Homo sapiens: one gene and its partner. The protein of the gene in region 1 purifies or fractionates together with the protein of each later gene. This does not show direct contact. Each region holds a gene or a part of one and is shown in the gene's direction. Other genes may lie near its edges. The genes, in order: TM4SF20 and HSDL1.

What was found.
Region 2: the proteins of TM4SF20 (region 1) and HSDL1 purify together in Homo sapiens (affinity purification with mass spectrometry; 3 studies listed by BioGRID and IntAct, with this or other methods). This does not show direct contact.

What each region holds. Positions count from the first base shown.
Region 1 is NC_000002.12:227,360,335-227,372,255, reverse strand, and holds the end of TM4SF20 (transmembrane 4 L6 family member 20), read left to right. Parts: intron 1-1,275; coding exon 1,276-1,341; intron 1,342-6,011; coding exon 6,012-6,163; intron 6,164-8,243; coding exon 8,244-8,532; 3' UTR 8,533-10,218; downstream 10,219-11,921. UniProt on the Homo sapiens protein: Polytopic transmembrane protein that inhibits regulated intramembrane proteolysis (RIP) of CREB3L1, inhibiting its activation and the induction of collagen synthesis.
Region 2 is NC_000016.10:84,130,535-84,142,455, reverse strand, and holds part of HSDL1 (inactive hydroxysteroid dehydrogenase-like protein 1), read left to right. Parts: intron 1-2,198; exon of another isoform or gene 2,199-3,233; intron 3,234-6,850; 5' UTR 6,851-6,912; intron 6,913-11,128; 5' UTR 11,129-11,134; coding exon 11,135-11,354; intron 11,355-11,921.

The sequences.
Region 1 (11,921 bases):
AATAGCACCTACCTCATAGGATTATTATGAGGATGGAATAAACTAAGGCGTGTAAAGTGCCTGTAACAGAGTCTGGCATTCGCCAGAGCTCGGGAAAATGTTAGAGAATGAGAGTAGAAGGAGAGAGAAAAACCACTCAAGGGCAGCTGTGCTGAGATGGCAAAAAAACCTACGCCTAAAATTTCTCAAGCGGAAGGAAATAATTACATTCCACCCTTCAATGATACAAAACTCCTTCCAGTAAGAATTTCTAGTCGTAGCTGCTGCCTAGATATACTAAAAATTGAAACCCAAGTCCTGAGAATATGGTGTTCTTTCTTACAGCTTTCCTTGGCAACGTGTATTTCCCTGAAGGCAGAATGCGATCTATAGATTTCTGAGCATCAATATATAAAGTGAGATCATTACATATCATGGATATAGGAAGAGAAAGGAGAACGTGGAACCAAAAATAATTCTCAAATATAAGTTTGGGGAAACCAGCAAGATAGCCGGGATCCTGGGAAAAGAAAGGCTAGTGGGAGTGGGTGGTGACAGAATGATTTGTTCCCAACTGCCAGGCAAACAAAACCATCAATTTCTTTTCTGCAGGTTTGCCAGAATAATCCATACAATTTCTGGGAAATCGGGCCAGGCGTAATGGCTCACATCTTTAGTTTTCTTGGCAGGAGGTTTTCTTGAGGCCAGGAGTTCAGGACCAGTCTGGGCAACAGAGTGAGATCTTGCTTCTACAAAAATATTTTTAAAATTAGCCAGGTGTGGTGGTCTACACCTGTGGTCCTAGCTACTCAGGAGGCTAAGGCAGGAGGATTATTTGAGCCCAGGAGTTCAAGGCTACAGTGAGCTATGCTCGTATCACTGCACTCTGGCCTGGGTAAGAGAGTGAGACCCCTACTCTTTAAACAAACAAACAACAGAGTTTGGATGATGCAGCCAATTCTTTCAGAAACATTTCTTCCAAAAATAATGTATAAATAAGTCATCCTAATCTATTTAAAATCCAATTCTCTGCAGATGACTCAGAGTGAACTAAGAATGTAGATAGAAGACTTCAAAACTCCTGTCTTGAATTCCCCTGTTCCCGCCGCCACTTTTAATCTTTCTGGTTGAAACTGGGATGACAAGGTTCACAAAACCACGGATATTGCCAAATTCCCTTTTTGTTCTTTGAGCCTTGATTTCCCACAACTGGTGGTAAACGGAAGGTGAAGATTACTATTTTTTCTTCTGATGAGAAGTTATAATACTCATCTTTCCTGTTGATGTCATTTCCAGGCCATTCCAGCAACAACAATGTCCTTGACAGCAAGAAAAAGAGCGTGCTGCAACAACAGAACTGGAGTAAGTATGAAGCAGTCGGCGTGGAAGCAGAAGTGCATGAACAGTTATTGCTACCTAAGCAAAGCCACACTGAGTCACTCGCATCTACCGAATCACAGTGGGGCTCCACTGACAGAGCCACAGCCTTAGAAACATGCTATTTTTATTTATTTATTTAGAGACAGGGTCTTGCTCTGTTGCTGAGACTGGAGTGCAGTGGTGCGATCTCGGTTCACTGAAACTTCTGCCTCCCGGGATCAAGCAATTCTCCTGCCTCAGCCTCCTGAATAGCTGGGACTACAGGTGCACACCATCACGCCCAGCTAATTTTTGTATTTTTAGTAGAGATGGGGGTTTCAACATGTTGGTCAGGCTGGTCTCAAACTCCTGACCTCGAGTGATCTGCTCGCCTCGGCCTCCCAAAGTGCTGGGATTACAGGTTTGAGCCACTGCGCCTGGCCTGAAACATGCTATTTAGGATGATTATATAGAAGTAGAAAAAGTGAGACGGGTTTTTTTGTCCCACAAACATTTAGAGTTGGCCTTCTGTCCCTTCCTCAGTCTTCCGTGGATTGTCCTTTCCTCAATCTAAAGGTTTTCAAAGAAAGGAGATTGGTAAGTCACGCCCACAGCTGCAATCAATTTCATAATACTCGGGTGTGATATTTTTGTGGCGTATATAAAATACTCAGGGAAAATGTACTCAGTTCTCTCATGCAATGACAGACTGGTTTGCTAGGATTAGAATGACAATTGCCTTTATCCAGTTAAATTAAAGGAGCTGCCAGGTTTTTTTCCCCCAAAACATTTAATGCCTACCCACTATGTATAAAGTCGTAACGAAGTTAAAAGTAAATTAAGATTCATTAACCGGAGTGTCACTCTGCTCAGAACACTTTCAGAGATGCTGTTTCATTTAATTCTCTCAAAACCCTTAAGTGGGAAAAAGTAAGAAGTGTGTTTGATTGACGAAGGAATGGACGCTCAGAGAAAGTAAATAATTTGCCAGTGTAGCACACTAGTAAGTGGATTTTTATCCAAACCCACTGGAGCACCCCACAATTCATGATCTTTATACCATGAACATGGCTATTAAGCAACATAAGGACTCTCACAATTCCCTGTGGAAGGGGTAGATTGACAGCAAGCAGTCACAGTAAATCTGCTTGGCTGAGCTTGAGCTTTCAGAGCAATGGTTCTCAGATGGATGGGAACATTAGGCTGGGCACGGTGGCTCACAGCACTTTGGGAGGCTGAGGTGGGAGGATCACTTGAGGTCTAGAATTCAAGACCAGCCTGGCCAACATGGTGAAACCCCGTCTCTACTAAAAATACAAAAATTAGCTGGGCACGGTGGCCCATGCCTGTAATCCCAGATACTCAGAAGGTTGATGCAGGAGAATCTCTTGAACCCAGGAGGCAAAGGTTTCAGTGAGCCGAGATCACATCACTGCACTTCAGCCTGGGCAACAGATGAGTAAGACTCTCTCAAAAAAAAAAAAAAAAAAGACAGATGGGGATATTAGAATTATCTAAAGAGATTTAAAAAAATACCAGTGCCTGGGTGGCCGCCAGAGATTCTGCATCAGTATTTTTCAAAAGCACTCAAGATAATTTGGCCAGGGGTTAGAACCACTACTTAAAAAAAACAAACCAGATATTTCTATCCATAATGGAAGATTCATATTTTTAAAAATTACCCTTTTTCTGACATTTGATATTTATCTAGGATTACAATAATTATGCTAATTAGTTCTAGTCTATTTTTGTCTGAATACATTTTAGGTATTCAATAAACACTAATTTTCAGTTTCCCTTCCCTGTCACTTTTCTTTGTAAACGATAATAATTTGGAATTTGACTTTGTATCTTTTCTATGTGGTGTTCACAACATTCTTGACATCCTGAGACATTTCTGAATTCCTGAAATCAAAAATATCAAAACACTTATATAGGCTTTTCCGATAGGTGTATCCTCTAAGAACTGGTTTTTATGTCGTATCTGGTGTCTTTGAGGCCTAGATAAGACCAAAACATGAGACAAGTGGCAAAGGCAACATCTTGGGAGGAAGGGAAAGGGTTGACCAAGGCTTGTCCCCTATTTTAACTGTTCTTTGCTTCTTCCCTTTTTCCAGTTCTTATTTTTGCTTCTGAATACAAAATGGTTTTGCTGAATCATTTAAGTGAATCCCCTTTAGGGGAAATACACATGCCTGGAATCACTTTCTAAAGCCAGGCCTTTTGTAGGGATGAGAACTCAAAGATAATATGGCTGGGTGCGGTGGCTCACGCCTGCAATCCCAGCACTTTGGGAGGCTGAGGTGGGCGGATCACTTGAGTTCAGGAGTTTGAAACCAGCCTGGCCAATATGGTGAAACCCTGTCTCTACTAAAAATACAAAAAATAAAAATAAAAAAATTAGCCAGGTGTAGTGGCGGGCATCTGTAATCCCAGCTACTTGGGAGGCTGAGGCAGGAGAATTTCTTGAACCCAGGAGGCAGAGGTTACAGTGAGCCCAGATAGCGCCACTGCACTCTATCCTGGGAAACAAAGAAAGGCTCCGTCTCAAAAACAAAAAATTATATATATATATATATATAAATAATAGATGGCGGCCAGGCGTGGTGGCTCACGCCTGTAATCCCAGCACTTTGGGAGGCTGAGGCGGGCGGATCACAAGGTCAGGAGATGGAGACCATCCTGGTTAACAGGGTGAAACCCCATCTCTACTAAAAATACAAAAAATTAGCCGGGCGTGGTGGCGGGTGCCTGTAGTCCCAGCTACTCAGGAGGCTGAGGCAGGAGAATGGCGTGAACCCGGGAGGCGGAGCTTGCAGTGAGCCGAGATCATGCCACTGCACTCCAGCCTGGGCGACACAGCGAGACTCCGTCTCCAAAAAAAAAAAAAAAAAAAAATAGATGGTTAAAAATAAACACCATGGCACTTCTTGATGAGTACATTTAAGTAACTGCACAAGTCACAGTAGCATGGAAGAATCAGGATTTGAAGTAGACTCCAAATCCATCATTCTGAACTTTTGGCTGGAAGAAGAATAGTGATTAAAGTGTTTCCCAGCTGTGAGAGCCTGACAAGTTTTGTCCATCTCCATGATACACAGTTTTCTCATCTATAAAATGGAAATAATAATAGTATCTACCTCTTGGGATTATGAAAAGAATTAAATGAGATGATATATGTAGAGCACAACATCCCTCAACACAACTCTATAGGTAGCCACCTTATTCTGCACTCATAAAAGGCAGGTCTCAAGAACACAACACACAGACCCTGTGGGAGCTGCATTATCCCAGCAAAGAAAAAGGAAAAGCATTCCCTCGCTTCATTTCTGCTGATTTTGAAATAATCATCAGTGACTAACAACTTCACTGAAACAATACAAAAGTTTCCTTCTTTTTTTTTTCTTTTAGAGATGGGCTCTTACTACGTTGCCCAGGCTAGTCTCGAACTCCTGGGCTCAAGCAATCTACCCTCCTTGGCCTCCCAAAGTGCTGGGACTACAGGCATGAGCCACTGTGCCTGGCCTAAGAGCTTATTTTTGGAAAAACAAACACGAACTTTCATTCAGTTTCCTATGCCAAATTCCATGCCTTCTTCTGCTCTCATGACTGACTCACGAAATAAAGATGTGTACAATCTTTCTAACACAGTGGCTCTCAACCGGCGGGTTATTTTACCCACCCACCTCCACCCCAAGAGGATATTTGGCAATGCCTGGAGACATTTTTGGTTGTCAGAACCGGGCTGGAGGTGGCAAGGCGTCGGGGGATGATATTGGCATCTAGTGGGTAGAGATGAGTGATGTTGCTAAATATCCTACACTGCACAGGAAAGGCCCCACAGCGAAGTGTGCAAATGTCATTGGTGCTGAGGTTGGGAAGTCCTGTTCTAACTCTATGCTGTTGACTGATCACTGTGGGATGCTGGCCACTGGCCACTTAAAGCATCAGGGCCAAATTCACTTAAAGCATCAGGGCCAAACGCTTGCGAGCCAAGAGACCAGACATGAAGATAAACGTAGTTAAGATCCAGTCAAGATTCTATGAAGTAGGAAGTACATAAAACAGGGAGGAACTAGATCTCAGTGGTCAGAAGAAACAGATGAGACTCAGGAATATGAAAGTTGAGATTTTCCAGAGACAGTGACAAGCCAAACCATCTTTTTTTTTTTTTTTTTTTTTTTTTTTTTTTTTTTTTTTTGACAGAGTCTTGCTCTGTCACCCAGCAGGAGTGCAATGGCACGATCTCGGATGACTGCCTCCCGGGTTCAAGCGATTCTCCTGCCTTAGCCTCCCAAGTAGCTGGGATCACAGGCATCCACCACCAAGCCTGGCTAAGTTTTTGTATTTTTAGTAGAGAGGGGGTTTTGCCATGTTGGCCAGGCTGGTCTTGAACTCCTGACCTCAGGTGATCCACCCACCTTGGCCTCCCACAGTGCTGAGATTACAGGTGTGAGCCACCATGCCCAGCCCCAACCATCTTTTATTGAGTGTAATCAAATAGCAGAGACTGCCCTCTGCCTTTTTGTATCATTCACACCTAATAAACTGTGATCTTAAGATCCAGGATTTTAGGGCGACTGGATTTAAAAAAGACTGTATACGCTCCTGAAGCTTGAAACAGATCAAGAACATGTCATAACATGTGCAAATGGCTCTATTTTATTTTTCAGATGTTTCTTTCATCACTTTTCAGTGTGATCACAGTCATTGGTGCTCTGTATTGCATGCTGATATCCATCCAGGCTCTCTTAAAAGGTCCTCTCATGTGTAATTCTCCAAGCAACAGTAATGCCAATTGTGAATTTTCATTGAAAAACATCAGGTAAGTAACTTGATTTTCACAGGCTTACTGTCTCACACAGTTGAACTAGTTTGATTAGATTAATGCAGTACTGGAACAATGCCATGTTTTTATTTGATGCAACTGCCGGGACAAACGGATTCTTAGGAATTTTAGTACATTAACGCCAGTTAGCACAACTCCACATCAAAATGGAGGAATCATTAGATTTACAATGCTCTAAAAGGACTTTTAGATATTGTCTAAAAGGACTAGTTGATCTCAAATGGCTTATGCTTGTCTTTCAAAAATCTACAGTTACATATGTGTATGTATATTAAAAAATTATGCAAATATACACCAGAAACTTAACTTTCATCCTTGGAGAATGGAAATAGGGGATTCCCTTTATGAGAGTGAAGAGAACATTTACTTTCTACACTTCTGAACTAATTAAATTTGTCAACCATGAGCAAATATTACATTTACAATTTAAAAAATTTAATAAAAACACAATAAATAAAATGCAGAGCCTTGCCTGTAGGCTTAAATGGAAGAGCAACCAATGGATTCATACAGATATGCTATAAATATACTGTATGCATGGGAATGAATCCAAATTTTAAGTCATGTAATAACAAGTAATACTGGAGAGTTACATGTACTTAATAAGTGGCTCATTTTAGTCTTTTAAGTACATCATTCTGTGACTGAATCTAGACACAATTTGTAAAAACTGGAAGAAAAAAACTATCTAATCCATTACCTCTCTGTATAGCCTGCTCAGTTTAGCAAATAACCAGAATTTACTTTTGTAGTTACATACAAAAAATTTTTTCTCCTTTTCCCTTACCTTGCTACATTAAAAAAGAAAGTCCCTCAAATTTTGTGTAGCATATTTGTTTTGAACCAAAACCCAAGGAAGGCCAGGCACAGCGGCTCACGCCTGTAATCCCAGCACTTTGGGAGACCAAGGCAGGTGGATCGCTTGAGGTCAGGAGTTTGAGATCAGCCTGGTCAACATGGTGAAACTGCATCACTACTGAAAATACAAAAATGAGCCAGGCGTGGTGGCACGCGCCTCTAGTCCCAGCTACTCAGGAGGCTGAGGCGGGAGAATTGCTGGAACCCAGGAGGCGGAGGTTGCAGTGAGCCAAGATCAAGCCACTGCACTCCAGTCTGGGTGACAGAGTGAGACTGTGTCTCAAAAACAAAGCCAAGGAAAGTCTCCTTGCTAATAGACTTGAAGTAAAGGGTTAAAGATTTCTACCACAGATGCTATGCACATTAAATCCCCAGGGAATGACAACAGCCCACAATGTACCAGGCACCAGGCTACGCTCTGCAGACAACAGCGCTCAGATATTCTCAGCCTAGTTGCGGAGATGGGCTAGGCTAGCAAAGTTACAAGAGAGTGATCCTTGGCTTGCTACACATTTCACAAAACACTCATATTCCATGTGCTGAAAATACTGTTGTTTTCCCAGGTTGAATGTCAGTTGCTGATATCCAGCAATGCAAACTCCCTAAGAACATTCCATTTTACTCTACAGTAAACAAACAAAAAATCATCTTGAGATAGATGTATTAGGGCTAAAAGTTTCTCATTTTCCACAGCCCCGTTAAGAACAGGCACATCACTTTAATCAGACATATTTAATCAGTAAAAACTGTACATCTGGTTGAAGAACGGACGCCACGCTGTAGTTCTGCACTAAGAACTGAGCTCATTTAATGGGGGTGGCGGGGGGTAGGGGAGGCTCCTTAGTTTTTATATCTAGCAAGTAGAAGAGTATCTGAATAAATAAAATAAATAGGTTGAACCACGAAAAACTGTTGACATTCAACTATTTCTGACATCCCAAAACAGCAGTTTCATACCGTTCAACCTAAGAGAAGATGTACCATAGAGATGCTTGTTAAATGATGGGCTATATAAGTAATAAAAGTTTTGTAACTAGTAGAGTATATGGACACATGCTCAGAAACCCTGATCTCTGTCATTTCTGGGCACGATATTTCAAAAGTACATTCGTTTCACTCATTCTTTTATGTGCACAATGCTACTTTCCTTTGGTCAGGGATATTTCTGAATATCTGATTTTTATCTTTTGTTTTTCAGTGACATTCATCCAGAATCCTTCAACTTGCAGTGGTTTTTCAATGACTCTTGTGCACCTCCTACTGGTTTCAATAAACCCACCAGTAACGACACCATGGCGAGTGGCTGGAGAGCATCTAGTTTCCACTTCGATTCTGAAGAAAACAAACATAGGCTTATCCACTTCTCAGTATTTTTAGGTCTATTGCTTGTTGGAATTCTGGAGGTCCTGTTTGGGCTCAGTCAGATAGTCATCGGTTTCCTTGGCTGTCTGTGTGGAGTCTCTAAGCGAAGAAGTCAAATTGTGTAGTTTAATGGGAATAAAATGTAAGTATCAGTAGTTTGAATTAATTTGAGAAGTACACTTGTTTTCAAAGTCATCTTTGAGATGATTTAAAAAATCAACCCTTCACGTAGAAAGCACGTTGTAAATGCATAACACTCTCATATCAGTGGTTGATTTGGGAAAGGTGGAGAGAATTTTCAATTAGTTTTGTGTTGTACTATTCAAATTTTTTACCTCTTCACTGTGTGTAGAGAAAGGAGAAGGGAAGGAGGATGAGAAGGAACGGAAGTCATCCTGAAAATAAAAGTACAGGACTTTTTTTTTTTTTTTTTGAGACAGGGTCTCAAAAAAGGCTGGAGTACAGTAGTACAGTGGTGCTATCTCAGCTTACTGCAGCCTCAACCTCCTGGGCTCAGGTGATTCTCCCATCTCAGCCTCCCTAGTAGCTGGGACTACAGGTGCGTGCCACTATGCCAAGCTAATTTTTGTATTTTTAGTAGAGATGGGGGTTTTCCATATTGCCCAGGCTGGTCCCGAACTCATGGACTCAAGTGATCTGCCTGCCTCAGCCTCCTAAAGTGCTGCGATTACAGGCATGAGCCATCGCGCCTAAAGGACAGGACCTTTTTATTGTATTTCTTTAAAGAATAAATACATAACCTGAATGCAATCAAGTCTTTAGATCTAATTCTCAGCTTGCAGGGAACACTAGGACAAATCCAAAAAGTGGGTCAGCGGGCACAGAATGGCCCAATTTTCAACAGGAAAATGTTATAAAAGAAAAATATTTTTGAGGGAACTGTTATAGATTAAGAGAATAGAGGCATGTTTCAGCTAAACACATGTAAACTTTGTCAGAGATAATTGGGAGGAGTATGTAGAAGAATCGGATTATTGTTAATTTTGGTAGGTCTGATAATGGTTTTATAGTATAAAGGCTGAGTACCCCTTATCCAAAATGATTAAGATCAGAAGTGTTTTGGCTTTCACATTTTTTTGGATTTTGGAATTTTGCCTATAATAATGAGACATCTTGGGGATGGGATGCAAGTCTAACCACAAAATTCATTTATGTCTCATACACACTTTGAACACCTGGCCTGAAGGTAATTTCACACAATATTTTAAATAACTTTGTGCATGAAACACAATTTTGACTGCATTTTGACTGCAACTCATCACATGAGGTCAGGTATGGAATTTTCCACTTGTGGTGTTACGTTACTGGCTCAAAAAGTTTTGGATCTCGGAGCATTCTGGATTTTGAATTTTTGGATTAGTGATGCTCAACCTGTATACAGAAATGTCCTCATTTTTAAAAAAAGAAATGCATATTTATATGTTTTAAAATTACTTCAACCAAAAGCAACGGGGAGATGTTTACTGTTATATTTAGGTGACAGGTACATGGCAATTCATTATACCCTCCTATTTTCCTATGTTTACATTATTCATTAATTAAAAAACAATACCTAGAAAAACCCAAGACTTTCAAAAGCTATTTTCTATATGTGCCAATCTTTAAAAAACAGGATAACAAGGGTATTTATCACATTAAAATGTTGTAAAACAGCAAAGCTAAAAATCTAAAATTTTCTGAATGTTATTTCTATATTTCAATTGTTTATGTTCATTGGGCTTAAGGTTCCAGAAATAATTTGCAGTACCTACATTATAGCTGCCTAAATAAATTTAGTAACATCAAGAGCTTATAAGCCTTTTTTCTGAACATTTACTATATAAAAACATTCTTCCTACACCCCTACAAATACTTACTTGTCCTTAAGGCCTAGCTTAAGTATCTCCTACTTGAGGAAGCCTTCCCAGTGCTCATGATCCAATAAACCAAGTCAGCACTTACCCAAGCCTCTATTATCATTCCTGTCATAATGTAACATACATGTGTTTGTACGTCCATCACTATAGTATTCAGGAGCACAGGAACCACGTTCATCAGCCCTCACCTCTTCAGGTCCTTAGCAACGCCTCTCATTTCCCCACCTCCAGCCCCATTCCTACCCCCACCTGCCTTATCTCTGGCAGCACTCTTTATCCTTGACTTCAGCACAAATACCACTTTTTCTGAGAGGCTATTCCTAAACGTCTAATGAAAACTAGGTTTCCCTTTACTCTTTTACCATGCTTTCATTTACAGCATTTATCACAATGATGATTGCATTTTCCTTTGTGCTTGCTTCTTAAATTTCACTGTCCCCCATTAGACTATAAGCTCCAGGGGTACAGGAACATGTTTATTCCCTCCTGGTATAAAGAGTACTTAGTACAGTGCCTGGTACAAAGCAGAAACATTGCATTTAGTTGAATGAATTAATGAATCCTATCTTCAGTACTCAGCTTTTAGCGAAGACTCGATACTTACTCAATGAACTGTCAAACTGCTAATGGTCATGTAATTAAAACAAAAATAAGACAGCTCACTGTACTCTAGTGAACAAGGGTCAGCAATGGTGCTTACAAATTTTCTCATCACCCCCCAAAATATTTATGCCATGTACTTTCCCCAAAATGTGACTTCATTAATTCAGCCAGTGACCAGAGTATCCTTACATCAATGAGTAAATATAAAAACTTTATTGGAATAGCATGTTAGCAGCAGTGAACAGGGCATGGCACAGAAGGTTTCCAAAACAAGTTTAGCATGAAGGATGCCATATGCTGTTGCCAACAACTAGAACACGGTGACTAAAGACACAGTTCTGAATGTCCAGCACAACCTCTGGCCTGCAACTATGTTCAGTGATGATGATAAACAAGGTGGTGACTTGGAAGGAATCCCTATGTCAAGTGAGAAAAAAAAATGATGTCTGACCTCCTTATATATGTAAAAAATATACCTTCAGAGTCCGTCAGTAAGCTGGAAGAAGTGGATGTTGAAGTTTTTAACATCGATGATGGGTCTCCAGTTGTTCATCAACCCATGGTGAAATAGCTGAACGGTTCTGAATCAAAGGTGATCCTAATAGTGAAGACATTAACATTGCAGAAAAAGTGCCTACAGATTATATGGTGAAAATACGTGATGGGCTTCTTGAAGGACTAGAGCAGTGTGTATTCAAAACAGAACAAGAAATCACGTCAGTTTATAAAAGCAAAGAGAGGTTTCTCAGACAAAAACATTGTTCATGAGGTAGATGACTCTGGAAGAAATACTTTAAAAAGCCACTGAGAAGAATGCCTCGTCTCCACAGGATCCACTTCCTAGCCTCTCAACTGCTTCTCATGTTTCTTCTCACTGAAAAAAATAGTGTCCAGTAATCTTTACTCCAACAGTACCGCCAGTGGGGACAGGAAACTTGCCGTGGCTGTTCTTGGTTGTGGCTGTTGTCTAACAGCTGGTGCAGTATCTGGTGATGCCCCTGTGCTGCTTAGTTACTTGAACGCAGTTTTTTCAC
Region 2 (11,921 bases), on another chromosome or scaffold:
TCAAAAAAAAAAAAAAAAAAAAAAAGATGTGTGAGATCCCAGCCTCACACCATCACAAAACGCCAGGAGGATTAAAGACTTAAACTGAAAAAGCAAAAATGTAAAATTTCTAGAAAATAATTCGAAAAAATTTCTTCATGACCTGAGGCTAAGGAGGGATTTCTGAAATAAAACAAACCCTAAAGCAGAAAGATTGATATATTTGTCTCTTTCAAAATTAAGACATTCAGCCAGGTGCAGTGGCTCCCACCTGTAATCCCAGCACTTTGGGAGGCCAAGGCAGGTGAATGGTTTGAGCTTACGAGTTTGAGACCAGCCTGGGCAACATGGTGAAACCTCATCTCTACACACACAAAAAAAATTTAACTGGGCTTGGTGGTACATGCCTGTGTCCCAGCTACTTGAGATGCTGAGGTGGGAGGATGGCTTGAGCCCGGAAGGCGGAGGTTGCAGTGAGCTGTGATCATGCCACTGCACATCAGGCTGGGCAATAGAGCCAGACCTTGTCTCAATAATAATAACAACACATTTAGTTCATGAAAGACACTATAATGAGACACAAAACATACAGAGAGCTAGTATCTAGAATATTTAAAGAATTCTTACAATTCTGAGAGAAAAAAAAGGAAAGGACAAAAGATAGGAACGGGCATTTCATAGATTACAAAACACAGAAAGCACATACATATAAAAAGGACTGCAGCCTTACTAGTAACCAGGGAAATGTAAATTAAAACCATAATGAGATACCATTTCACAGCCACCCTGTTGGCAGAAGGTGAAGCTTTGGACGCTACCAGCCAGTGACATTGAGGAGTGGCACGAACCTGCTGCTGGCGGGAGTGTGAATGGGTTCTGCCGCTTTGCAAAAGCATTTGGCAGTGGAATGCATGTGGACCAGCAGTTAAACCATGGGCAAATCCCTTTGCGAACTCTTGCACAGGTGTGCAGGAGATGGGGACAAGCGCTCCCTGCAGCACTGTTCCTAACTGTAAATCAAAACCAGCAGAAACAGTGCACGTGCCTAGCACCAGCAGCAGGGGGACCTGTGAATCGTGGTGTATCTGAACCAGCAGCAGGGGGACCTGTGAATCGTGGTGTATCTGAACCAGCAGCAGGGGGACCTGTGAATCGTGGTGTATCTGAACCAGCAGCAGGGGGACCTGTGAACTGCAGTGCATCTGAACCGTGAGATACTGTGCAGCTGCCGAGGAGGATGGACTATATAGCTGCAGGGGCATGGATGAGTCTCGGGAATGATGTTGAGTGAAAGAAACAAGTCACCAAAGGGTCCATGTGGTGTGGTTCCTTTATGTGAGGTTCAAAACCAGGCGAAACTTAGCAATACTGTTTTTTTTTTTGTTTGAGACGGAGTCTCGTTCTGTCGCCCAGGCGGGAGTGCTGTGGCGCGATCTCCGCTCACTGCAAGCTCCGCCTTCCGGGTTCACGCCATTCTCCTGCCTCAGCCTCCCGAGTAGCTGGGACTACAGGCGCCCACCACTGCGCCCGGCTAATTTTTTGTATTTTTAGTAGAGACGGGGTTTCACCGTGGTCTCGATCTCCTGACCTCGTGATCCGCCCGCCTCGGCCTCCCAAAGTGCTGGGATTACAGGCGTGAGCCACCGCGCCCGGCCAGCAATACTGTTACTGTTTCAGAATACATGCTTGGGGTATACAGCTGTTTTGTTAAAAGAGTCAGGGAGTGACTACCCCAGAATTTAGGAGAGAGGCTGCCTCCAGGATAGAGGAGGGGCTGTAATCAGAGGAACAGCATACAGGACTTCCACGACACTGGTTTTGTTAAGTAGGCTGGTGGCTAAGTGGCTGTTTTATTATTCTTTGAACTGTGCATAATAGGTTTTACATACTTTTGTATATATTTAAACATTTTTGCCAGGTGCAGTGGCTCACGCCTGTAATCCCAGCACTTTGGGAGGCCGAGGTGGGTGGATCACTTGAGGTCAGGAGTTCAAGACCAGCCTGACCACCATGATGAAACCCCATCTCTACTAAAAATACAAAAATTAGCTGGGCATGGTGGAGGGCACCTGTAGTCCCAGCTACTCGGGAGGCTGAGGCAGGAGAAACGCTTGAACCCAGGAGGCGGAGGTTGCAGTGAGCAGAAATTGCACCATTGCACTCCAGCCTGGAAGACAGAACAAGACTCGGCCTAAAAACAAAAATTTCTTTTAGTTACAGAAAAATTCGTTTTCTATACATCTCCTGCCCTCCAGAGGCCTGTGCTCTCCTTGGACAACCAAGAAACCAAGATATAAGCAAGTTGAGTGTTTAAATAGAATCCAAAGCAGTGTGTGCTAAGTGCCACATGGGTAAGAGAGGTGGAGAGGAATTCAGAGGTGGGGGCAGTGCCACGGCCTGGGAAGGGAAGGGACAGGAAGGGAAGTTTCTCCCCAGGGCTGACATGTTGTTGGTGCTTGTTAGGAAGTGATTGAACGGAGGAGAAGACATGGGACTTGAAACGTCAGGAAGAACAGAGGATTTGGAGTACTGAGCACAAGACAGATTCACACTCTGAAAAAATTAAGATTTATTTGGAAAAATGTTTTCATCAATGAAAACAGCCATCGCCCTGGAGCCTTACTGAAAAGCTGGATAATCCCAGCTGGTGAGGAGGAGGACCTCAGGTCTACCCTGGTCAGTCAAAGATGGCAGGAACCTCTGAGACTTTCTGGCTCCTGAATACACATAGTGGTTTTGGCTTAAGGGAGGTTGCAGAGTTTTCAGCTTGTCTCTTCGCTGTCCTGAAAGCTGAACTGACTGTTCATCCATCCCTTCCTCCCACTGTTTATCCTTATCCCCTGTGGCTGATGTAACAAATTGCCACAAAGGTAGTGGCTTAAAATGACACAGATGTCTCTTCCTTCTGGAGATGGGAATCTGAAGTCATTGTGACTGCGCTAAAGTCAAGGTGTCAGCAGGGCTGTGTTCCTCTGGAGGCTCCAGGGGAGAATCCTTTTCCTTGCCTCTGCCAGCTTCTAGAGGCCACCCCCCGTCCTTCACTGGTGACCCACCCCTCTCTCTATTATCGAAACCAGCAGCACAGAGCACCCTCAACTCGAGCTCTCTCTGACCTCTCCCTTTGTAGTCACATGGCTCTCTCTCTTTGATCTTCCTGCCCCCCTTACAAGGACACATGATGACATTGGACCCACCCTCCCCAGCTCGGAGTCTTTAACTCAGTCACATCTACGGAGTCCCTTTGGCCACATAAGGTGACGTATTTACAGGGTCTGGGGATTAGGCTGTAGATATCCCTGGAGGCCATTACTGTGCCCACCACACTGTCGTTCGCTAATGCTTTGATTGTCTTTTTTTCCATCCTGCTTGCTTTGTCTTCTTTAAAACCCTGGCCAGTCTGCCTTGTGTTCTTTCACCACCCGCCCCACGTCACACGCATTTGGATAGCTTGGTAATGTCCATGTTTCAGCCAAGACTTTCCTCCCAGAACTCTTGGTACATGAAGGTTTTTCTATTTGAGTTGATTGCCCTTTACACTGCTAGGTGGAGTCCCCTTCACTGTGGAGTGGGATCATGTTACAGGCCACAGCAGTGGTGCTTTGAAGAGGTGACTTTGCTACTTGCAGTTTTGACCATAATTGTCCCGTGACGCTTTTGTAGTTGTAACGTTTCCTGTAGGTTTTTGATGACTCCTGCCCTGTAGAAGTAGAAAATGCTTAAAAGATAATAGGGACTTGCTCTTCTTTTCCTAGTTTGGGGACAGTTGTGGTTTTGTTTTGTTCACAGATGTTTTAGTTTTCTGCAGAGATGAGAAAACAAAGCTTAAAAATTTTTTTAAATTATTTTATATTTTTCCAACTTCATCGAAGTATAATTGACAAATAAAATTATATAAATTTAAGGTGTACAACATGATTTGATATATGTATACTTTGTGAAATGATCACCACAACCAAATTAGTTAACACATTCATCACCTCAGTTACTTTTTTATTTCTTTATGGTGAGAACACTTGAGATCTACCCTCTAAGCAGATTTTAAGCCTACAATTTGGTATTGCTCACTATGGTCACTGTACTGTACATTAGCTCTCCAGACGTATGCATTTTATATTTGAAAGTTTATACCCCTTTGACCAAAACTTCCCACCCATGACCCCACCTCTAGCAACCACCATTCTACTCTCTGTTTAAGAAAATAAAGCTTTAGAATAAGTTCTTGCAGGTAGATTGTACATGAATCAGAATTTTACTGTGTTTTAGTATTGCTTTCCACATCATGGGTTTCTCTAGGTTGCAGGCTGCCTTAGTTGGTTTTGAGCTGCTATAACAAAATACCATGAACTGGGTGGCTTGGAAACAGCAAACACTTACTTTTCGCAGTTTGGGAGGCTGAATGGTCCAAGATCAAGGTGGTGGAGCCCTCATTATCTGATCGCCTCCCAAAGGCCCTCCCTTCTAAACCATCACCTGGGGGGTTAAGATTCAAGACAAGAATCAGGGAGTGGGGCGGAACGCTCAGACCGTAGCACAGGTTAATAGCTTTCGCTAATCAAGCCACAAAACAGTAACTAGTCAGATACCTAAAGTAACTTTGACGAGGCTTGTTATCTACATATGCCTAAGTGGACTTCTAGGCTTAAATGTGTGATAAATTCCTTTGAAAGTTTCAGTGAGAGGCTATGAGCTTTTGAAATTTGGTGGCTCTGGGGAAAGTACTGATTTCTTTTGTCATGAGAAAAATGTTATTTTCCATCATGTACAGAAGGGTGGGGAAGAAGATTGAGAGCAGGGAATGAGTTTTAATTTCCAGTTCTCTAACATCTTTGGCCCATCAGGGTGTGAGTGAATGTGTGAAGTGTCTGGCAAGGCTGAGGAGCAGCAGAGGCCACAGAGCCTTGGCTCTCCGTGTGGCCCTCCTTCATCCCCAGCTGAGTAACCAGGGCTCAGGAGCCCCCCTCCTCCCCTGCTGCGTTACCTTCCTAAACAAGCCCCACCAGCTCCCTCCCTTGGTGCTCAAGGAGGAGGTCCATGCACTCCAGTCTGGCGTGAAGGCATCTCCAGTCTGCCTCTCCCAGTCTCCTTCACGCCTGTGCGCCTGCACACATGGGGCGTCACACAGGACAGCACAGCCTGTGCTGTGCATGCGGGGGACTTCCTAATGTTTCCCGAGTAGGCCAGACCCTTGACGGTGCCGAGCCTTTCTCCATGGGCCCGGGCCAGGGAGGTCCCTTCCCTCCTCTCTGCCCAGAAATTCTGCTCACACTTCAAGACCCATTTCACCCCAGTGGCGCCCTTGCCACCTCATGTTGCAGTTGCTCCGTTTATCTTTCTCTGACTTCTGTGTATACCGGGTGGCACGGAGTCCTGGTTTATTCATGATGGTGTCCTCAGTCTCTGACACTTTGTATTTTTCATTGCTGTTCTAGAAGTTTGGTTTTCCATGTAGATCTCGAGAGACTGTAGGACCAGTGACCGTGTGTGTTTAGGCCTCTTCGCTGTGTTGTTCACTATCCATTCCTAACTTGGCATTTGAATGTATCAGTCTTCTGTGGGTTTTGTGGATGTGAGTCAGATTTCTTTGTCTTGAGCTGCCTCTAAGGAATGAAGAACTTGGGTTTCTATCCATCAAGGCTGAGGACCAGACCTTGAATGCCATCAGCCCCCCTGATGCTCTGTGATTTTTAAAATATACATAGCAACAATAATATTAACACACGTTTAAGGTACTTGCACACGATGGCGCTCCCCTGACAAGAGGTGAGGGGTGTCTAGTGGGGGCGTTGAGAAGCTGGGCCATGATGGGCTTGAAGCCCCTCAGCCCCAGGTTCCTGTACTCACCTCTGCAGTGGGTGCATCTCCTCTGCTGGCCTGAGTGGGAGGTCCCTGGTGGGTTTAGCACACAAGCTTTTCTTTCTGTAAAGGATCAAAGGAATTTGTGGGTGGTCCGCTCCTGAGCTGAGGGCTGAGCGCTGGACAGGAAGACTGCCTGTGAGCTGCAGCCAGAGACTTGGTAGTGTTGAGCTTCTTTGTGCCAGGAATTGTGGAAGGTGCTGGAGAAACAGAGAGGAGTAGAATCTGGCCTCTGCCCTGGAGGACTATAGCCTGCTGGGGTGGTCAGAGACAGAACAGTTGCAATGCAGTGTGTGTGGTGGAGGAGAGGGAAAATGTGGACCAGGGGTTTCCTTTCATTTCCTCCTTAAAGCATCTGACCCACTCACAGCCTAGGGGGGCTGCCCCCAAACACTGTAGGACGCCTTCCTCCCTGCCACCCTGCCAGGAGATTAGACAGGTGGTGGGCACCTGAACTAAGGTGGGCGAGCCAGAATCCCTGCCAGGAATTTGGAAAGAGAAGCCAGGGCAGCCCGTGGCAATGTGGATGTTCCAGGGAACGCTGCAGGTGGAGCTGAAGAAGGGGTGTGCAGAGTGAGGCAGTGGGAGGCCCAGGTGAAACCCAGACAGGCACCAGGCAGAAAAAGGCACCGAGGACAGCTGTGGCTGCTCTCTTCCCCGATGCCGGCCTGGTGCCTGGGCGGTGTTTCCCCAAGGGCTCCTGGGATTGGAATGGGCTTTTGTCCCATTTGATGAAATGTTCCCTAGGAAAAAAGGCATAGGAAAAGGGGGCACCCTCCAGCTGTGCCTGAGGACGCATGGACTGTGCCCCCAGCAGACGCCAGGCGCTTTTCTTATTCTGAGAGGAGGGTACTTGGTGCCTAGTACATGGTTTGCTGCCTCTACAGAGATTCATGGCGTAAGAATTGTTGTGTTTTCTTAATTTTTGAGCACTTGGATGTTACTTTAATGTAAAGTTTTCCCAGCTGAACTATGAGGAAGAGGAAAGGCATTTGTTTCTTGTTGGTTTTATTCACAGATTGGCCTTAAGAGAAGGACGGAGCCACATACTGCTGACGGCCCAGAACTGGCAGAGAGAAGGTAAGAGACCCCAGGGCAGGGAACGACCACAGCAGAAAAACTGGGGCCCCCTTTGTGGTCAGGCGCCTTTTGCTAGACATTTACTTCAAAAAGGTTCAGATTCTTGAAAAAAATCGGGCTTAAGGAGGAAGCTTCCATCTGTGTGGGTTCCTCCATGAGGCATGCCTGACCTCCTTTTTGTAGCGAGAGCCTTACTCTATAGGCTTGGAGCAACTCATTTCCCCACAAATACTGCTTTGGCTACAACCCATTGATCTTGATATGTAGTATCTGTTTTTTCTTTCTTTTTTTTTTTTTCTTTTTTCTTTTTTGAGACGGAGTCTCCCTCTGTCGTCCAGGCTGGAGTGCAGTGGCGCGATCTTGGCTCACTGCAAGCTCTGCCTCCCCGGTTCATGCCATTCTCCTGCCTCAGCCTCCTGAGTAGCTGGGACTACAGGTGCCCGCCACCACGCCCTGCTAATTTTTTGTATTTTTAGTAGAGACAGGGTTTCACCCTGTTGGCCAGGATGGTTTTGATCTCCTGACCTCGTGATCCGCCCGTCTCGGCCTCCCAAAGTGCTGGGACTACAGGCGCGAGCCACCGTGGCTGGCCTGTAGTATCTATTTTTTCATTGAAAACACTGTTTTAACAGCCTAGATGTATGCCTACCTGTTATTAGAAGAATAAGCTTAATATTCCAAGTGTCTAGGTTTCTTTAGTCATAGCTTGTTATTCCCAATTTTATTACATTTTGCTTGAGAGGTCCTGGTACATACAGGTAATTACATACAGGTAATTGTTTTTGCATTTACTTTCCTCATGGCCTTGTGTTTGATTAGTTATGACAAAAGGCACCCACACTTTTTATGAGTTATTTCCGGAACTCACAATTTAGGATGGTCTAACATAGAATCTCGGTTGTTTTTTTTGTTTGTTTTTTGGGGTTTTTCTTGAGATGGAGTCTAACTCTGTCGCCCAGGCTGGAGTGCAGTGGTGCAATCTTGGCTCACTGTTACTTCCGCCTGCTTGATTCAAGTGATTCTCCTTCCTCAGCCACCCAAGCTGGGCAGTCACCACCATACCCGGCTAATTTTTGTGTTTTTAGTAGAGATCAGGTTTCACCATGTTGGCCAGGCTGGTCTTGAACTCCTGACCTCAAGTGATCTGCCCACCTCGGCCTCCCAAAGTGCTGGGATTACAGGTGTGAGCCACCGTCCCTGGCTGGAATGTCAGTTTTTAATGTTCTTATAGGATATTAATGTTTTGGGCCTGTCTTTGGGAGTCCAGTACTTATGACTGTTCAAGGGCTACAGCCAGTGTGAAAACTCTGATACCGTGCCCGTCATCAGCATATCCAGCAGCAGGAGGGTTGTGGGAGGGGTGGTGGCGCGGCTTCCTCTCATGCAGATCTGGAAACAGGTATGCTCGTTCGCTACACTGAAGGGGGGGCCCTAACTTTGAATATATTTCAAAGGATTGTCAATCAAAGGATTTGGGAGCAGTAAGGGGTATTGGTGACTGCTGTACGGAAGATTGCTCAGAAAAAAGAAAGACTTTGTTGAACTAGACAGCTCATATTTTAGGTCATCTCAGCCAATCTGGTTCATAAAGAAAAATTACCCCAAAGGAGCATTTATTTTAGTTGTTTTTAGCTTAAGTATTTGGTTTATGTACTTAGTCAAATTTAAAATGTTTCCTTTTCATGATGAACTTTGGCATTCTCATTGTGGGAGGTGAGTTTCTGTGCACAGAGCCCCAGTGGACAGCATTTTACCTGTAGGGAATAAAGGGGCCCAACTTTTCATTTGAGGAAAACTTTTTTGTTTGTTTGTTTCGAGATGGAGTCTCACTCTGTCGCCCAGGCTGGAGCGCAGTGGCATGATCTCGGCTCACTGTAACTTCCTCCTCCCGGGTTCAAGCAGTTCTGTGCCTCAGCCTCCCAAGTAGCTGGGATTACATGTGCCCACCACCATGCCCAGCTAATTTTTGTATTTTTAATAGAGACGAGGTTTCACCATCTTGGCCAGACTGGTCTTGAACTCCTGACCACCTGCCTTGGCCTCCCAAAGTGCTGGGATTATAGGCATGAGCCACCGCGCCCGGCTGAGGAAAACATTTTTTAAACTTAATGCCACATTGGCTTAATTTGGTAACTTAATATAGCAGCAATATCAACTTAATACGGTACCAGTATGAAACTTTCTTTTTTAGAGAGATTGTTTCCTTATCGTAGGGCATTTAGGAATCCTACTGCTTCTCCATTTCTTCAGTTTTCAGTCATATTTCTTGTGTACGTTTTGTTGATTTGTAATTCACACTACACATTTATATATATTTATTCAATAGTTTTAAAATTATTTTATATGCCTTTTATCACAATATGGTGCCATTCTTGTATGTGTTCCGTTTCAGTGGTTCATTTGTTTTCTTCTGCTTGGTTCCTTTTTTACTTTGCAAAACTTTGTTGAGCTCAGATTACACTGCAGTGGAGTAGGAGGGAATTCCCCATTCTTTCTCAAACTTAGGCTAATTTGTGCTGCTATTGTTGGGTATTTTCTTAGTATCCAGACTTTTTTTTTTTTTTCTATTTTAAAGGGATTTCTTCAAAAGTTGCCACCCCCAGAAGTTTTATATTTCTTTTTCTTTTGGCTTAAAATCATGTTCTTTTTAGAATATAAGCTGTGTCCTTGGGTTTGTGTGTATCTGAGTTCCCTGTAATATAAGTGTAGTCTATTGCAGTTGTTTTGATATTTTGTCTTTCGCAGGATGCACACGGTTGGTTTAGCCTGATATGAAGTCCACTCACTCGGTCTGTGGCCAGACCCCCCATGCCTGGCCTTTGTCTACTTCTGCAGGGTTATCTCTGATTGCAGGCACACACCTACCACATCATGTGGCATTTTACATTATTTTGTTAAATGTCTGCGTCTTCACCTAGGGACGGTCATTTAGTTCATCTGTGAATCCTTTGAATCACAGTACATAGAACATAGTAGGTGCTTAGTATATACTTGCTATGTGGACACTCAACAGAGTTGTGTTGGACTTTTCTTTCCTCAAATGTAAGAGACCAGGCAACATAATGGTTACAAATTAAGTTAGAAGATGGAGGAGTGCTCCCTCTATTGTCATTTGAGAAGCCATTTTTCCAAGCTTGGAGGGTATCTCTTTAAAAAAAATTTTTTTTTTAATTGATGTAAAGGTTTTTGAAAGCTGAGTTTTGTCTCCAGTGGATTGTAAGCTTTTGAGGCCAAGGCCATGTCTTAGTGCCACCTCTGTTTCATCTCCTTTGTCCCTACACAGGTAGTAGGTCCTCCATTCTTGCTGATTATGAATAAAGCAAAGAAATACATGTACCTCTGCTGTATGAATTAGAAGCTTTGTGTTTGTTATTATTAGACTAGGAGCATGTTACAGGCACAGAGCATATTGTGTTTATCTCTGTAGCCACAGCATGTAGTGTAGTACCTGAATTTTAGTGGGAATTTGGTAACTTCTGGTAGTTATGTTGATTAGTCTCCTTGGAAGAAAGTAACTTTATAAGCTACGGATGTTAAATGGTGAGATCATAAATTGGCTGAATCTCCAGGCATGGTGGCTCACACCTGTAATCCCAGCACTTTGGGAGGCCAAGGGTGGCGGATCACCTGAGGTCAGGAGTTTGAGACCATCCTGGCTAACGCGGTGAAACCCTGTCTCTACTAAAAATACAAAAAATTAGCCGGGCGAGGTGGCGGGCGCCTGTAGTCCCAGCTACTCCGGAGGCTGAGGCAGGAGAATGGCGTGAACCCCAGGGGGCGGAGCCTGCAGTGAGCCGAGATTGCGCCACTGCACTCCAGCCTGGGCGACAGCGAGACTCCGTCTCAAAAAAAAAAAAAAAAATTAGCCGGGCGTGGTGGCATGTGCCTGTAGTCCCAGCTACTTGGGAGGCTGAGGCAGGAGAATCGCTTGAACCCGGGAGGTGGAGGTTGCAGTGAGCCAAAATCGCACCACTGCACTCCAGCCTGGGCGACAGGGTGAGACTCTGTCTGATAGATAGATAGATAGATAGATAGATAGATAGATAGATAGATAGATAGACTGAAACTGTGAGCCACGTACATTTGAAAAGTTAGTGTTATTTGAACGTACAATTGACAAGATCTGATGCCCTCAGCTGGATGTCTTCACTCAGACTGTGTATGTTCCTTTAATTTATTAATCAAAGAGGCTCTCTCTCTTTCCCTCTCCCTGCAGGTTGCCATGGCTGCTGTTGACAGTTTCTACCTCTTGTACAGGGAAATCGCCAGGTCTTGCAATTGCTATATGGAAGCTCTAGCTTTGGTTGGAGCCTGGTATACGGCCAGAAAAAGCATCACTGTCATCTGTGACTTTTACAGCCTGATCAGGCTGCATTTTATCCCCCGCCTGGGGAGCAGAGCAGACTTGATCAAGCAGTATGGAAGATGGGCCGTTGTCAGCGGTAACCTACTTTATAATCAAAATAATCTTTTCTGTGAAGTCGGATGCATTATTCAAGGAGCTATTGAATTTAATGTGGTGTTTTTATGGGAACATGCTGATAAAAAAATAAAACTTATGGCTCCTGCCGTGATTATGTTCACATTTCATTTTCTTACTGCTCTCATCTTAGGAAGAACTGGCCTCATGATTGGTATCCTTCCTATTCTGCTCTCTCCTGTTCCCAGTCCTCCTCCAGACCCACTTCCTACTATGTGCTTTTCCTTTTTGTTCTCTGTTTTAAAATTGTCTTGAAAGTGTTGCCACTTTCAGAAATGCTTCACCTATTTTGAATTTCATTTTAATTTATGAAGATTTCCCAGAAAAGCACCTCCTGCCACTCATTCAAGCCAGATAGTAGTTTGAAAACAAATTCCTACTGTGTCTCCTAACCAATATGGTGAATGTAAAATAACTCCCTGTCCGTGTGTCAGGATGTCTGGGAGAGTGTATAGCATGCGCCCTTCACATTCCTCATTCAGCAACAGTGTCCTTGACTTGTAGATACTAGAACCGACTTGATTTCTAG